Linked DNA regions of Homo sapiens: region 2 is linked to region 1. The links come from fine-mapping of genetic effects on gene expression. A gene starts in region 1. The other region holds a variant in brackets. All regions are shown on one strand. Distances are between the middles of the regions. Region 1 holds the start of CD300LB (CD300 molecule like family member b). Region 2 has its middle 29 kb from the start of CD300LB.

Region 1 (8,937 bases):
TATATGTAGATAATCAATTAATCTAGAATAATTTAGAGCTTTGTTTTTCTTTCTAATTCTCATGTCTTTTGTTTCTCTTTCTTGTTGTATTGTGCAGGCTAATCAAAGTGTTGAATCAAAGTAGTGATTTTGAGCAATCTTGTCCTCTTCCTGATTCTAAAGGAAAGATTTTGCCATGGGTTGTAATGGGTTGCTTATAGGCACCTTTTAATTCCTAGTTTATCATGAAAAGTAATGGATTTCAGATAGTGGTTTTTGTGCGTTTACATGATTATGTGGGTTTTCTTCTTTATTCTATTAATGTGATTCATTATATTAATTTTTTTAGATGAAGCCTCATTCTGTCACCCAGGTTGGAGTGCAGAGAAGACGATCTGTTACCCATCTAGAAAGAGAAGTGAGAATAAAAGCATTATTTTAGTCTCCTTCCTTTCAGTATGTGATCCAGGATGGAGAACACAGTAGGGGGCGTTCCCCCAACTATTTTCTTTCCCTGGTTCCTGGATCCTGGCACCCATTTAAATGTGCTGGCCATGACTGCAGGCGTGACCCTCCAAGCCATGGCACCAGAGAAACTAGACTTCTGGGCCCACTTACACTTCCACAAGCACCTTAGTCTTTTATTTCTTTTTGACCTCCTGTGTGACCTGTGTGCTTCCCTAAAAAACAAAACAAAAAAACAACGATTTTAAGAAAAACTACGGGCCAGGTGTGGTGACTTATGTCTGTAATTCTAGCACTTTGGGAGGGCAAGGTGGGTGGATCACCTGAGGTCAGGAGTTCAAGACCAGCCTGGCCAACATGGTGAAACCCTGTCTCCACTAAAAATACAAAAATTAGCCACACATGGTAGCGGGCACCTGTAATTCCAGCAACTTGGGAGGATGAGGCAGGAGAATCACTTGAACCCGGGAGGTGGAGGTTGCAGTGAGCTGAGATCATACCACTGCAATCCAGCCTGGGTGGCAAGAGCAAGACTCCATCTCAAAAAAAAAAAAAAAAAAAAAAAAAAGGAAAGAAAAGAAAAGAAAAAAAAAGAAAAACTACATAATTGGGCAAAGCCTCTTTAAGGGAGGGGGCGTGCTAGATTGAACTTTATATCTTGCTATTATTATGGCCTGTGCTAAAGCATTTACCCTTAGAAAAATGGTTCTGGTTAACTTCTGGACTTAAAAATCCCCTTACTAATTAAGTACCATCTTAATCGGAGACAGAATAGGTGCCTTAAAGGAATGTAGGAACCGAATGGCCATTTTCCTGCCAATGGGACAATATTGAGACTAAAATTTGGCTATGGAAGACTTCTTAACTCCTAACTGCTAAAGGCAGAACTTTCCCATTTCAAGAAGAGGCCTAGAGCCTGATTTCTTTTTCTTTTTTCTTTTCTTGTTCTTTCTTTCTCTCTCTCTCTCTCTTTCCTTTTCTTTTCTTTTCTTTTTTTTGAGACCGAGTCTTGCTCTGTTGCCCAGGCTGGAGTGCAGTGGCGCGATCTCGGCTCACTGCAAGCTCTGCCTGCCGGGTTCACGCCATTCTCCTGCCTCAGCCTCCCGAGTAGCTGGGACTACAGGCGCCCGCCACCACGCCTGGCTAATTTTTTTTTGTATTTTTAGTAGAGACGGGGTTTCACTGTGTTAGCCAGGATGGTCTCGATCTCCCGACCTCATGATCTGCCCGCCTCGGCCTCCCAAAGTGCTGGGATTACAGGCATGAGCCACCGCGCCTGGCCGAGCCTGATTTCTAATCATGCAAAAAGAAGCTGCGGTTTGCCATGAAAAAATATGCTTTATGTAGAGGATTTCTATTTCTACTAGGTGGCACTGTTGGCTTAGAAATACTATGTGCTCACTAGAGACGTGGTAGTGAGTAACCTCACGGTGGGAGAAAGGGGAGAACTCTGTTCCTAGAAGATTGCAAGGGCATCTTCCTGATTTTGCCTAACAGGATTACTTTCCTAGGCTGTAAAACTCGCTACACATTTCACACAAAGAAAGTGTAAGAGACCGCAGATAGAGAAGGAAGGAGAGTTTTGTGACAAGATAGTTGAGGATTCTTTGCCAACACCCAGAATGGGCCGCCAGAGGCTGGGTCCAGTCCAGGGGCCTTTGAATCATGCCAGGGTGTGCTCTGGCCAGAAATTGTTAGTTGCCTTAGAACTTTTCCCAGCCTTGCACAATGGCGAGGTCTTCCCGTGAAAAGAAGCTGATTTAAAACATGGCCAACATTCCCAATGACCCAGGGGTGTTGGGGGGTTCTCCGTGTTCTCAGCAGCAAGCCTCACATTCGAGTCTTCAGTATGGCAGCCAACACTAAGTGTATGTACCCGGCTGACGGATGCCCATTGACTTATTTTATTTTAAAATAGAGGCTAAGAGTGCCTCGGAATGATAGAAGAGATTTTAAGCTCACTCCCATACTTACCACTCCGATGAGTGTCGTACCTTGGATTCCCGGCCAATGCAACAAAATGGTATGGCTCTGATGACTGGAGGAACACTAGGGTCCTTGGTCTCCCACTGGTTTGAATAAAACAACATGGGCACACGTGGAGTGGTTTTAAGGAGTGGAGAATTTAATAGACAAGAAAGAAGGAAGGAAGAGGCTCCCCCTGTTCTGAGACTGAGGGAGGCGGGCTCCAAGCTGAAAGAGGGAACCTCGAGTACGGTGGAAAACAGCCAGTTATATGAGGAGGCTGGAGGAGGCGGTACCTGATTTGCATAGGGCCCAGGGGATTGGTTTGACCAGGTATGTCATTCAAGTAGCCCACGAAAAAACTAGCCTTCCTACCCTAGCCTTTTAATATGCAAATACAGGCGCCATGATGTTCTACACACATGGGTGTATGTAGGGGCGGCCATGTTGCCAGGAACGTGGGGAAAAGAAGAAGAGGCGGGAGTCTCCATGTTTGGGTGGACGCAGTTTCTAATGGCCTGTATTTGCATATCAAAGCTTGCCTGCCCAGCTCTAAGAGCCAGGGCTTTTCTTCTAGACAAGAAACATTTATGGAGCTGCTTTAAAAGAAAAAAAAATCTTCCCAAGCACCCCTTTTCCTATCTACCTAAAATAATTTCTTAATAACTCCTATAACAACAACAAACATTATGAGCCCAGTTAATAGATACAATAACTGAGGCACAGAGATGTTGATTGCATTGTCCACAGTCACGCAGCTTGTAGGTGGTGCTCGTGGGGTTAGAGCCAGGTCTGTCTGACCCAACAGTCTGCATGTTTATGCACTTGGCTATAACACCTGAACAAATGCATGTTCAGGTGTGCCCAGCATGACCCATCCGACATCTGAGTTGGGTGTTCACTGTGGTATAGAACAGCTCTGAAATTGACTCCCAGAGTGTTATACCCCTTGGACCCAAGGCCTGCTAGGCCAGACGCCCCCCACCCCACCCCTTCTGCAGACGTATCTCCCCCTACCCTAAAGACCCTGCACAGTCCCCTCCCTCCTCTTTTTTACATAGTGACGATGCTTAAGCCCTGTGGCGCAGCCCTGCCAAAAAATGACACCTCTTTCGTTTAATAATTAAAAGCAGGAACTACCCACTCTATAAAAGGAAGTGAATGAGTAAGAAAGTCAAAGGCGGTCTAGATGTGCAGAAGGTGCAAGCCAGAGCTCAGGCAGAACTTCCAGAGTGCATCTGGGATCTGCATTTGCCACTGGTTGCAGATCAGGCGGACGAGGAGCCGGGAAGGCAGAGCCATGTGGCTGCCCCCTGCTCTGCTCCTTCTCAGCCTCTCAGGTGAGTGGGGCTGGGGCCTTGGGCGCTTGGTATGACAGGGGCAGGGCAGGAGGCAGAGGGCATTTGTCCTTCCACATCCAGGGAAATGAGAGGTGGCTTTGTGAAGTCATTCGACAAAGGTGCACTGGGGACTGACATCGTGTGCTTCGGGGCCTGAGGACATCAAGAAAAAAGAGGAGGAGAACTGGCCATTAAAGAAGACTCCAGGCTTGAGGCCATGGCTCACACCTATAATCCTAACACTTTGGGAGGCCAAGGTGGGAGGATTGCTTGAGTCCAGGCGTTTAAGACCAGTTTGGGCAACATGGTGAGACCTCGTCTCTATATAAAATGAACAAAAATTAGCTGGGCGTGGTGACCGTGCCTGTAGTCCCAGCTACTTGGGAGGCTGAAGCTGGAGGATCCTTTGAGCTCAGGTATTCAATTCTGCAGAGTTATGATCGCACCACAGCACTCCAGCCTGGGTGATACAGTGGGACCTTGTCTCAAAAAAAAAATAAAGTAAAAAGACTCCAGATGGCTTAGTGGGTGAGACATACACATAAACAATGAGCAATTGCAGGACACAATAAGGCATTGGTGGAGGCGTGTGCGGAGGATGAAGCAGTTCTCTCTGGTGACTAGAGAAAGACTCACGAAGCTGTGCACTTGATGTGCCTTGTAGAAGGAAGGTCAGTCTCTGGAGCAGAGCTGAGAGGAGAACACTCTAGAGAGTTGGGTGTGTGTGTGTGTGTGTGTGTGTGTGTGTGTGTGTGTGTGTTGGGGGACCTGGGCAGAGAGATGGAGGCTTAGAAAGAATGGTGGATTCATGCAGAGGGAGCTGTCAGTGTGCAGGATGTCTTGGAGGTGGCGAGTTGGATATGAGGTTGGAAACACAAAAGACAAGATTATGAAGGCCATCCACGCCAGGCTCAGGAGCTGAGACTTTCAAAGAAAAAACTTCTCAAGAACCCAGGTGGAAAGTGGGAAGGGCTAGATGATCTTCTCCATGGCAAACCTTGGTGGACACCTAGAGGGCATTAGGGGACAATCTAGAATTTTACGCAGGGTGTGCAATGTGTGTGGGCCACACAGTTTTCTGCTGGTGCCTAGGGACTGACCATCTGGCACAGATAGAGCAGTCCACGGAGGGACAACAGGAAAGAGCATGGCTGGGGAGTTCTGAGACCCGACTCCAGTCCTGGCTGGACTTCCACCCTTCAGCCCGTTCAACGGGGCTCTGCTCCAAGCTGACGGCTGCCCTGTCATTTCCATCTCTATCGTTCCTCATACCAACTCTTGACAACATATAGAAGCCTGATTAATAGTTCCAGCCATCATATTCTGTGGTTAGAGAAACCCCCAAATATTTTTTTAAACGGGACTAATTACATCGTGAGCCATTTACAGTTTGAATGACTGAAGCTGGGATTGATGACACTTTGTTCAATGCAGCAGCATCTCTTTTCTGCTGTTAGTGATTGCTGACAAATCCAATTTATGTTTTTGGGTATTTTGTTTTTGTTTTTGTTTTTTGTTTTTGAGACGGAGTTTCACTCTGTCACCCAGGTTGGAGTGCAGTGGTGCAACCTTGGCTCACTGCAACCTCCGCCTCCCAGGTTCGAGTGATTCTTCTGCCTCAGTCTCCCAAGAAGCTGGGATTAAGGTGCCTGCCACCATGCCTGGCTAATTTTTGTAATTTTAGTAGAGACAGGATTTCACCATGTTGGTGAGGTTGGTCTTGAACTCCTGACCTCAGGTGATCCACCCACCTTGGCCTCCCAAAGTGCGGGAATACAGGCATGAGCCACCGTGCCCGGCCCCGAAAAGACTTTTAGATGCTCAGGGCAAGTGCAGCTGATGAGGAGGAGGAGACAGTCTCAGTACCCAACTCAGGCAGCAGTATGGAGAGGAAAGCTGAGGGAGCTGTCAGTGTGCAGGACATCTTGGGGGTGGCGAGTTGGATATGAGGTTGGAAACACAAAAGACAAGATTATGAAGGCCATAATCCTCAGGAGAGGAGAGTTGGGGAGGATGCTGCTGGGGCTGGGAAGACCTCTCCAGATGCCACTGCCATGATCCAGGCACAGATGAAGTTCTGACCTGTTGATGAGCTGTCACTGACAGAGCAAACCCCAAATGTCTGGCGTTGGACATACATCCAAGTCTTCTTTTAAATTTAAAAATAAATAATTTTTTGAAGACAGTGTCTCACTCTGTCACCCAGGCTGAAGTGCAGTGGTGGGCGATTATAACTCACTGCAGCCTTGAACTCTCAGGCTCAGGCGATCCTCCCACCTCAGCCCCCCAAGCAGTGGGGACCACAGGCATGCACCACCACTCCTGGCTAATCTTTTGCATTTGCAGACACAGGGTTTCACCATGTTGCCCAGGTTAGTCTGGAACTCCTGGGCTCAAGCGATCCTCCTGCCTCAGCCTCCCACAGCTTTGGAATTACAGGCATGAGCCACCTTGCCCAGCCTACACACATCCAAGTCCTATTACCACCTTCAAAGTAGAGCGTAGCATGACTGTCTTATGAATAAGGAAGCGATACTTGCAGAGGTTAAGCAACTCTGCCAGGGTTTCCCAACTAGTTCAGTGTCAAGTCTTTCTGCATCAAAGCTCACACTCTCTCTGATGTCATGCTGTCCTTGTGGCCTGCGATGGCAGAGACTGAAAGAAGAAAAAAAAAAACTGAGGAGCATCTCTAGGATAGAGCTGACTAAACTGGCTACCAATCAGCTCGGGGGCTGAAGGAGAGGACAGCATGAAAGAAGATGCCAAGCTCTTCCTGAAGGCTGGGTGGTGGAGCTGCTGGTTTGAAGAGAATCAAGTTGGTTCTGCTGATTGAATGCCATGTGAATTTCCAGTGGCTGCTGTAACAAATTAACATGAACTCTATGGCTTAGAACTGCACAATTTCATCATCTCATTGATGCTTCTGAAGACCAGAGCCTGGCGTGGTCTTACTGGTTAAAATTGAGGTGCAAGTAGGGTTGGGTTTCTTTAGAGCAGTGGTCCCCAACCTTTTTGGCACCAGGATCCGGTTTTGTGGAAGACAATTTTTCCACATCAGGAGTGGGGTGAGGATGGTTTGGGATGATTCAAACGCATTACACTTATTGTATACTTTATATTACTATTATATTATAATATATAATGAAATGATTATACACTGCACCATAATGTAGAATCAGTGGGAGCCCTAAGCTTGTTTACCTGCAACTAGATGATCCCATCTGGGGGTGATGGGAGACAGTGACACATCATCAGGCATTAGAGTCTCATAAAGTGTGTGCAATCTAGATCCCTCACACACGAAGTTCACAATAGGGTTCTCACTTCTATGAGAATCTAATGCGGCCGCTGGTCTGATGGGAGGCGGAGATCAGGTGGTAGTTTGAACAACGGGGAGTGGCTGTAAATACAGATGAAGCTTCGCTTGCTTGCCCACCGCTCACCTCCTGCTGTAAGGTCCGGTTCCTAACAGGCCATGGGCTGTTACTAGTCTGTTGTCCTGGGGTTGGGAACCCCTATTCTAGGGGAGAATCTGTTTCCCTGCATTTTCCAGCTTCTAGAAGCCATCTGCTTTCCTTGGCCGGTGGCCTCTTCTTCCACTTCAAAGCAGCAACAGACCATCTTCCAATTGGACTCTCCCTCAACCCTCTTTCACTTAGAATATCCATGGAGATTATTCGGGATATTCTTCCTGTCTCAAGGTCCTTAACTTCATCACATCGGCAGAGTCCCTCTGGCCATGTCAGGGGACATATTCGCAGGTTCTGTGTATGAGGATGCCAACAGCTATGGGGGACATTATTCTACCAACCACGAATGCAAAGTTCAAGAAAACTAACACAGCTTCAAGGAGAAGGCCCAAGCTGTGAGGAGGCGGCATCTGCCTGGAGAAATAGACCTGGCTTTCTCCACCCTGCAGAGACCCCTGGCCTGGGCCTGAAGCTCTGAGGCCAAGAGACAGTCAAGAGAGGCTTCCCCTGTGATTCTCTGCCTGTTTATCCACTTCTGCGTGATCAAGAAACCCGTGTCATTGCCAAGGAAAGAGCCTATCTACACACAGCCTAACTGGAGTCAATCAGCGGAGGCACGGACTGCCATTTGATTATGCTCACCTCTAACCTGTTCAGCTTTCACCAGGCCTTTGTTACTCTTGCCACATCCAATTGCTCCACTAGAAAAAAATACTGAAGAAGAGTAGTTCAGGGTGGGAGAGGAAGTGCATTCAATTCTGCAACGAAGGAATCTGGGGTGGAGACATCCAGTGTGTCTTTGTAAATGGTGGGCTAGCTAAGGGGAGTCTGAGCTGCAAATATGGATTTGGGAATCATCAGGAAACAGGTAATCATTAAAGCCATGGAAATGGAGAGACTCCCTCCATGGAGGCTTGTCAGGTGAGACAAGATGAAGGCTGGAGAGGGAACCCTGGGTACCCCCGCAGTGTGCTGGGGCTGGCTCACAGGAGCTGGCTTGGGACATCTTTTCCCAGCTCTGTGTCCAGTGACATCACATGGATTACCTGACATCTGCCACCGTGGGAGTATTTACACTATGGAATTTGGCAAATATTAAAACCAGATTTTTTTTCTTTTTCTTTTTCTAGACAAGAGTCTCACTCTGTTGCCTAGGCTGGAGTGCAGTGGTGCGATCTCAGCTCACTGCAACCTCCGCCTCCCGGGTTCAAGCAATTTTCATGCTTCAGCCTCCCGCATAGCTGAGACTACAGGTGACTGCCACCACGCCCAGCTAATTTTTGTATTTTTAGTAAAGACTGGGTTTCACCATGTTGGCCATGCAGGTCTCGAACTCCTGACCTCAGGTGATCTGCCCACCTTGGCTTCCCAAAGTGCTGGGATTACAAGTGTGAGCCACCGTGCCCAGCTCCTAAACCAGAGATTTTTTCCCCCAGAGGGCTGGTTGTTAAATATTTGGCTCCGATGAAAACAGCATTGAGAGGACAAGGAAAGAAGGTGGTAGGAGACCATGGTGTCACATGCTAAGCAGGTCTAGAAGCTGGTGGGGGAATGGACTGAGAGGGAGATGGGGATGAGGAATCGGGTGTGCTAGAGACACACTCGGGACTCTTAAACACCAAACTGGCTCAGGCAACAGGAGCTGTATCTTGGGATTTTGTTTTCCAGGCTGTTTCTCCATCCAAGGCCCAGAGTCCGTGAGAGCCCCAGAGCAGGGG
Region 2 (8,937 bases), 28 kb after region 1:
TACTCCACAAGCACAGGCAACCTAAGCAAAAATGGGCAAATGGGATCACATCAAGTTAAAAAGCTTCTGTACAGCAAAAGAAACAATCACCAAAATGAAGCAACAATCCACAGAATGGGAGAAAATATTTGCAAACACCCATTTGACAAGGGATTAATAACCAGAATATGTAAGGAGCCCAAATAACACAGTAGGAAAAAATATAATAATCTAATTAAAAAATGGGCAAAAGATCTGATAGACATCTTTCAAAGAAGATCTACAAAAGGCAAACAGGTATATGAAAACGTGCTCAACATCATTGATCATCAGAGAAATGCAACTCAAAACTCAATGAGATTGTCACACACGTCCATGTGAAGAGACCACCAAACAGGCTTTGTGTGAGCAACAAGGTTGTTTATTTCATCTGGATGCAGGCAGGCTGAGTCCAAAAAATGAGTCAGCAAAGGGTGGTGGGATTATCATTAGTTCTTACAGGTTTGGGATAGGCATAAAAAGTACATTCTCAAGGGCGGGGAGAATATTACAAAGTACCTTCTTAAGGGCAGGGGAGAATATAGCGTATCAGTTAGGGTGGGGCAGGAACAAATCACAATGGTGGAATGTCATCAGTTAAGGCTATTTTCACTTCTTTTGTGGATCTTCAGTTGCTTCAGGCCATCTGGATGTATATGTGCAGGTCACAGGGGACATGATGGCTTAGCTTGGGCTCAGAGGCCTGACATTCCTGTCTTCTTATATTAATAAGAAAAACAAAACAAAATAGTGGTGAAGTGTTGGGGTGGCGAAAATTTTGGGGGGTAGTATGGAGAGATAATGGGCGATGTTTCTCAGGGATGCTTAGAGTGGGATTAGGGGCAGCATGGGAACCTAGAGTGGGAGAGATTAAACTGAAGAAAGATTTTGGGGTAAGGGGTGATATTGTGGGGTTGTTAGAAGTAGGATTTGTTGCACAGAATGATTGGTGATGGACTGTATGTGTTTTGTATGAATTGAGAAGCTAAATGGAAGACACAAGGTCCGAATAAAAGAAGGAGAAAAATAGGTATTAAAGAACTAAGAATTGGGAGTACCCAGGACATCCAATTAGACAGTGTCCAAGGGGGATCAACGCAATTATTTGCTTGGTTAGTGAGTTTTTGGGCTCTATCCTTGAGTTTTTTTATGTTGTCATATACCAGGCCAGACTGATTTAGGTAAAAACAACACTGTTCATTTAAAAATATACAGAGTCCCCCTTTTTTTAGCAGTGAGTAAGTCGGGGCCTCATTGATTTTGGAGGAAAGAGAAATGTAAAGCCAGCAATTGTTTGTTAAAGAAGGATTAGAAACAGCTAGGAGAGAGTGAGTGAGATTGATAGTGTGGTGGAGATAGCTGCGAAGAGGTAGAGAGGGTGGCATAAGAACGGGAACAAGAATAAGAGTGAGTATAAAAGTAAAGAACAGGACTTCATAAGGGTGAGAGTATTGGAGTGTGTCCTGTCAGCAAAGATCATCTACCCACTCCAAGAGGGAGTCAAGAGTGGTGGATTGGGGATAGATTTTCACAATGGAAAGGAAATGAGAGTTTTTAAGAGGCGGGCTAATGGCTTGTAACCTACATGGAAGAGGTTATGAAATGACGACAGGAATAGAATGGGCTAGTGAGGCTTGAAGGAGATTTTTTTTTTGTCTAAAAACCATCTGCCTTGAGTGGAGAGGGATTGATAGGTGGAAACTTCAGTGGGACAGTAAATAGGAGTGACCAATGAGGAGAAAAACTGGCCATCAGGGACAGAAGTTGGAAAACTAGCTGCCTCTTTAGCTACCTTATCAGCATAAGAGTTGCCCTGAGCAATGGGATCTGATGCCTTTTGATGGCCCTTGCAGCGAATGACTCCAGCTTCCTTTGAAAGTAAAGCAGCTTTAAGAAGAGGTTTTATTAAGGACACATTAATAATGGAGGACTCTTGTGTAGTGAGGAAATTTCTTTCTGCCCATGTAACAGCATGGTGGTGCAGGATATGGAAGGCATATTTAGAGTCAGTATAAATATTGACGCGTAGTCCCTTTGCAAGAGTGAGGGCCTGAGTTAAGGCAATGAGTTCGCCTTGCTGAGAGGGAGTGGAGCAGGGCAGAGCAGTAGCCTCAATGATAGATGTGGAAGATACTATAGCATAGCCTGCCTTTGCTGATGAGTGGTGATTAGGCCTGGTGGAACTGCCATCAATAAACCAAGTGTGATCAGGGTGAGGAATAGGAAAGAAGGAAAGATGGGGAAATGGAATAAATGTCAGGTGGATCAGAGAGATAGAGTCATGGGGGTCAGGTGTGGTATCCAGAATAATGTGGGAGGCTGGATTGAAGTCTGGGCCAGGAACAATGGTAACTGTGGGAGACTCAACAAAGAGTGAGTATAGCCAAAGGAGCCGGAGGGCAGAAAGTATATGCATCAGGTGGGAGGAAGAAAATAGATTTTGGAAGTTATGAGAACTGTACGGAGTGAGTTGAGCATAGTTTGTGATTTTGAGGGCCTCTAAAATATTAAAGCAGTGGCAGCCGCTGCACGCAGACATGAGGGCTAGGCTAAAACAGTAAGGTCAAGTTGTTTGGACAGAAAGACTACAGGGCGTGGTTCCAGCTCTTGTGTAAGAATTCCGACCACACAGTCCTGTACTTCAGCTGTGTGTAATGAAAAGGGTTGGGATGAGTTTTTTAAGGAATGGAAAGAGGAGTGGGGAAAGGATTTAGGATCTATGGGGTCAGCTACATTTATCTAGAACAGAATAATGGGTTGTGGAGGGAGGTATTGAGGATAGGAGAGTATATGGGTTTGGCATCACGGTGTGGATAGGCAAGACAATTTGGTTGATAAGGTGCAGATCCTGAACTAACCTGTAAGACTTTTCCGGGTTTTGGACAGGTAAAATGGAGGAATTGCAAGGAGAGTTTATAGGCTTTAGAAGGCCATGCTGTAGCAGGCCAGTGATAACAGGCTTTAATCCTTTTAAAGTGTGCTGTGGGATGGGATACTGGTGTTGAGCGGGGTAAGGGTGATTAGGTTTTAATGGAATGGTAAGGGGTGCATGATCGGTCACCAAGGAGGGAGTAGAGGTGTCCTATACTTGTGGATTAAGGTAGGGAGACACAAGGGGATGATGCGAAGGAGGATTTAAACTGGGGAAAAGGGCAGCAATGAGGTGTGGCTATAGCCCAGGAATAGTCAGGGAAGCAGACAATTTAGTTAAAATGCCTCACCTAATAAGGGAACTGGGCAGGTGGGGATAACTAAAAAGGAGTGCATAAAAGAATGTTGTCCAAGTTGGCACCAGAGTTGGGGAGCTTTAAGAGGTTTAGAAGCCTGGTCGTCAATAGCCACAACAGTTATGGAGGCAAGGGAAACAGGCCCTCGAAAAGAAGGTAATGTGGAGTGGGTAGCCTCCGTATTGATTAAGAAGGGGATGGGCTTACCCTCCAATGTAAGAGTTACCCAAAGCGTCTGTGATGGTCCAGAATGCTCCCGAGGCACCTCATAAATATATACACCTACTATGACCCAGAAAAACTAAAAATAAAAAAAGCTAAAAAAATCAAGGGTCTCACTAACAGGCTCATTTTAACTAAAAGGGGGCAGCAAGGTGGACTTTTGAGCTAAGCAGTGTTGTGGTCAAATACTGAGTGAGTCACTTAACCTTCTCCCTTCGCTTCTGATCCAGCACAGTGGCGCCTAGGACTATGCATGGGACACGAGGGGTTACTCAATCAGTGATGTAGAGACAGCTGGCTAAGTCTTA[T/C]ACAAACTCAAGTTCTGTTCATACCGCACTCTGTAAGCCAAAATAGTTTCAAATGGATCAAAGATTTAAATACGAAGAAACTACACAAGTTTTAGAATAAACTGAAATCTTTCTAAAGTCTTAGACTATTTAAAAGTTTTAGAATAAACTGAAAACTGCAAGTTTTAGAATAAACTGAAAATATAAAATGAAATTTACAAAAGTTTTAGAATAATGGGTGAATTTATTAGACTCTTGAAATGGAGCATCCTAAGGAAAACTCAAACTTTATAAAGCAAATGATTGAGAAATCTGACCTCAGAAAAAAGATGAAACATCACTGGGTGAAAACACCTTTGAAAGTTTTTTAAAAAATGACAAGCTATGAAGGAAATGTTGCAGGCAATTTGACAGAGAGCTTATTTTCTTAATTTACAAAGCACTCGGAGGAACTCAGTAAGATAGATTAAAAGCTCAATGGCAAAATGGGCAAATGGATAGTTCACAGGAAAAAAACTAAAATGGCAAATAAAGGAATGCAAATTCTGAAAATTATAAGATATTATTTTCTTCTATCAGATTGAAAAGAAAATAGAGTGTGAAAATATCCAATACTGGCGAGAGTGTAGGGAAAGGGACATCGTTGAGTGTTCTTGATGGGAAGGTAAGTGGGTGTAAGGTACATGGATGTGCTTTGGTCAAGAATAGGTTAGCCAGGTGCGGTGGCTCACGCCTGCAATCCTAACACTTTGGGAGGCTGAGGCGGGTGGATCACCAGAGGTCAGGTGTTTGAGACCAGCCTGGCCAACATGGTGAAACCCCATCTCTACTATAAATACAAAAAAAAAAAAAAAATAGCTGGGTGTGGTGGCTCGGGAGGCTGAGGCAGGAGAATCGCTTGAACCTGGGAGGCGGAGGTTACAGTAAGCCGAGATTGCACCATTGCACTCCAGCCTGGGCGACAGAGCGAAACTCCGTCTCAAAAAACAAAAACAAAAACAAAAACAAAACAGGCAGAGGCAAACATCAGGGCCAGCGTGACTCAGGGAGTCTGGCGCGCAGGCGCATAACTCCACTTGTTATGTAATCTGTTTGTGTAAGTGGCTCAGAGCCACTATTGTCTGTAAAAGGTATAACTGCCCTGCTGACGCTGTACATGTGGTTCGGCATGGCTTGTGCCCAGAGGCAGAGAGTAAAACTGCTGACCCCATAAGGGAGAGCCAGGCTTGTAGGCCAGGGAATGCAGCTGTAAGCCTGGGAATGGCAAGAGCCGCAAAGCTGGAGCAGGCAGCCGAGATAAAGGTGAATTGTATGAGAAAGCTTCTGATGAAACTATCACAAGGACAGAAAACCAAACACCGAATGTTCTCACTCATAGGTAGGAATCGAACAATGAGAACACTTGGACACAGGGTGGGGAACATCACACACCGGGGCCTGTCAAGGGGTGGGGGGCTGGGGGAGGGATAGCATTAGGAGAAATACCTAGTGTAAATGACGAGCTGATGGGTGCAGCAAACCAACATGGCACATATATACCTATGTAACAAACCTGCACATTGTACACATGTACCCTAGAACTTAAAGTATATAAAAAAAACTGCTGATGAAAAAGCTGCTGAATAAAACCATATTTTACCTGCCTACAGCCCCCTAAATATTCCTTCCGCTATTCGCCACCCATCCACCCACTCCCCTCAGACCTCAACATGGGCTGGAACCTGACGCTTGGCATGACAGTGGGCAAGAGCTTTTTGAAGGAAAATTTGTCAAGATCTATTAAAAAAAAGTCAATTCATGGACCTTTTGACTAATGCTCCACTATTGGAAATTTCTCCTAAAGATATACTCAGATAGGCCAGGCGTGGTGGCTCACGCCTGTAATCCCAGCACTTTGGGAGGCTGAAGTGGGCAGATCACGAGGTCAGGAGATCGAGACCAGCCTGGCCAACACGGTGAAACCCCATCTCTACTAAAAATACAAAAATTAGCTGGGTGTGGTGGTGCACGCCTGTAGTCCCAGCTACTTGGGAGGCTGAGGCAGAAGAATCGCTTGAACCCGGGAGACAGAGGTTGCAGTGAGCCAAGATCACACCACTGCACTCCAGCCTGGGCAACAGAGCAAGACTCTGTCTCAAAAAAAAAAAAAAAAAAAAAAAAAAAAGATATACTCAGATATATACCAAGATACAGGTACAAAAATACAAAAACATGGTCTGGGATGACATAACAATGTGTGCATCTGTGCATGTGTATACACACGCAGTCATACATGGGGCCTTGTATGACACACAGATACATCGGCATGCATTGTGCACCTACAGCTCCAGTCCCTCCCCCAGCGCCTGACTCATACAGCCAATAGGGGGCTTGTCATCTTTATTTGAGCATCTGTACGCCCAACAGAGTCCCTGTTTCCTCTCCCCAATTCCACCCCAAAACTGCTGCTCTCTTAGTCTTTCCATTTCCGTAAAGGGACCCACCTTTACTGCCCTCCCAATTGCTCAAGTGAAAACCGTAGAAGTCACCTGCAATTTTTATTCCTTTCTTTTCACTCCCTCCCACATCCAATCCTTCAGCCTGTTGGGTTGGCTCTACGGCCAGAATGCATTCTGAGCTTGTCCACCTTCTCCAATGGCCACATCCACCACCCCATTCCAAGGTGCCATTGTGTGACTCCCTTGCTTGAAATTTTTCAGAGTTTCCACTTAGGACAAAATCCACACATTTGCGTATTAACCCTTCCCTGATCTGACCACTGCCTGCCTCTGCCTTTCTGCGTCTGCCTCCCACCAAGCTCCCCACATTGTCTACTCTGTACTCATCTGGCCGGCACCCTAAGCCTGGGACACACTAGCCTTGTTCCCCCTTAGAGCCTTTGCCTGAGCTGTTTCCTCTGCCAGGAATGCTCTCACTCTATATTATTGTGTGGCTGGCTCCTTCTCAAGTCTCAGCTCAAATGTCAGGAAGTCCCTCCATGACCTCCCTATGCAAGCAGCCCTTCCTGCCTCTCATCACTCTCAGCTGTACACAATTCAGATCTTCACACAGCAGTTCTGTGATGATCTGAACGAAGCTTGCTTTTGTTTTGTTTGTTCTGTCTACTGCCCACTAAGATACAAGGACCAGACAGAAGGGGCCTCATTTATCTTCTTCACTGCTATGTCTCTGCTGTATAGCTCCATGGTATATAGTAGGTATTCAATAAAAGTCATCAAGTAAATGAGTAAATAACGGAATGAATTAAAACTGTGGAATCACATATAAAAGAATGAGGTAGATTTGTGTGTACTTGTATAACAAGGTCTCTAGGACATATGCAAAAGTGAGGTATGAAGAATTATGAGCCCCTCCCCCCACTTTTTTTGGAGATGGAGTCTTGCTGTGTCGCCCATGCTGGAGTGCAGTGGCGCGATCTTGACTCGCTGCAACCTCTGCCTCCTGAGCTCAAGCGATTCTCCTTCCTCAGCCTCCCAAGTAGCTGGGATTACAGGTGTGTGTCACCACACTTGGCTAATTTTGTATTTTTAGTAGAGACAGGGTTTCACCAAGTTGGCCAGGCTGGTCTTGAACTCCTGACCTCAGGTGATCCGCCTGCCTCGGCCTCCCAAAGTGCTGGGATTACAAATGTGAACCACTGCGCCTGGATTAGCCCTTTTGAAAATAATTTTGAAATAATAATAAGTTTTCTGAAAGCTGTGTAAGAAATGGCTAACAGTAGTCACTTTTGTGGAATGGTACTAGGGGTAGGGTAGGAGGAAGGAGACTTTTTTGTTAATTTTATAACTTCCTGTACTGTTTTAATTTTCTGTCCATTGCACATGGGTTTAAAATTTTTTTTTTTTTTTGTCCTGAGATGGAGTCTTGCTCTGTCACCCAGGTTGGAGTGCAATGGCGCGATCTCGGCTCACTGCAACCTCTGCCTCCCAGGTGCAAGCAATTCTCCTGCCTCAGCCTCCCCAGTAGCTGGGATTATGGGAGCTTGCCACCGCGCCTGGCTAATTAAATAATTTTTACTTTTCTTTTTGTGTGTGTGTTAAGAGACATCATCTGGATATGGAACGATACACACTTTTCTGAATTAATGTTATTCTTTTTGTTGTTATTGTTGATTGTTTGTTTTTGAGATGGAGTCTCGCTCTGTCACCCAGGCTGGAGTGCAGCGGCATGATCTTGGCTCACTGCAACCTCCGCCTCCTGGGCTCAAGCGATTCTCCTGCCTCAGCCTCACGAGTAGCTGGGATTACAGGCATGCACCACCATGCCTGGCTAACTTTTTGTATTTTTAGTAGAGACGGGGTTTCACCATGTTGTCCAGGCTGGTCTCAAACTCCTGGCCTCAAGTGATCTGCCTGCCTTGGCCTCTCAAAGTGCCAGGATTACAGACGTGAGCCACAGAACCCGGCCAGAATTAATGGTATTTATTTAAAAGCAATGAGAACTATTTATTTGTAATTGGCAGAAGTTTAAATCATTTTTTTAAAGGCACCATTCCCAATGTTGGCCATGGGATATGCTGAAGGATATTTCCATACCAGGCTGATAGGAGAATAAATTGCACCCAAATCCTATCGAATATACTACCCCTGGGCCGAGACATTTCTAAGAGTGTATCCTAAAGAAATAATTATGTGCAAGAATGGTCACATAATTGGTTATAATAGCAAGAAACTAGAAACATCCTAAATCCCCAACAGTAAAGATATGGTTAAATAAATTACATTACATCCATAAAAGGAACATGATACAAATTTTAAGAGTATATGTTATTTGAACCCATATTTTATAAGGAAAAAATGTAGATATATGAACATTGTTATTTTCTTCTTTTTGTCTGTATTTTCTAACTTTTTTTTTTACAACAAATAGATCTTTTTTCTGTAGTTAATATAAAAAAAATTTTTTTTTTTTTTTTGAGATCGAGTCCAGTGTGTCACCCAGGCTGGAGTGCAGTGGTGTGATCTTGGCTCACTGCAACCTCCGTCTCCTGGGTTCAAACAATTCTCCTGCCTCAGCCTCCTGAGTAGCTGGGATTATAGGCATGCGCCACCACGCCTGGCTAATTTTTGTATTCTTAGTAGAGGCAGGGTTTCACCACGTTGGCCAGGCTGGTCTCGAACTCCGGACCTCAGGTGATCTGCCTGCCTCAGACTCCCAAAGTGCTGGGATTATAGGCGTGAGCC

Evidence for each region.
Region 2: its variant is fine-mapped to the expression of CD300LB in whole blood (TOPMed, PIP above 0.99).

What each region holds. Positions count from the first base shown.
Region 1 is chr17:74,526,123-74,535,059 of GRCh38, reverse strand. It overlaps CD300LB (CD300 molecule like family member b), which reads left to right and starts at 3,585. Exons shown (of 4, transcript NM_174892.4): 1 at 3,585-3,749. The coding sequence starts at 3,710. It overlaps LOC107985074 (a long non-coding RNA gene), which reads right to left. Exons shown (of 3, transcript XR_007065902.1): 2 at 2,419-2,513; 3 at 181-385. It also overlaps a transcript of CD300C not described here. RefSeq lists an enhancer at 6,466-6,535.
Region 2 is chr17:74,497,824-74,506,760 of GRCh38, reverse strand. No RefSeq gene overlaps it. Among named protein-coding and RNA genes, the nearest start is that of CD300LB, 29 kb to the left of the region's middle. The variant T/C (reference allele first, on the strand shown) is at 3,776.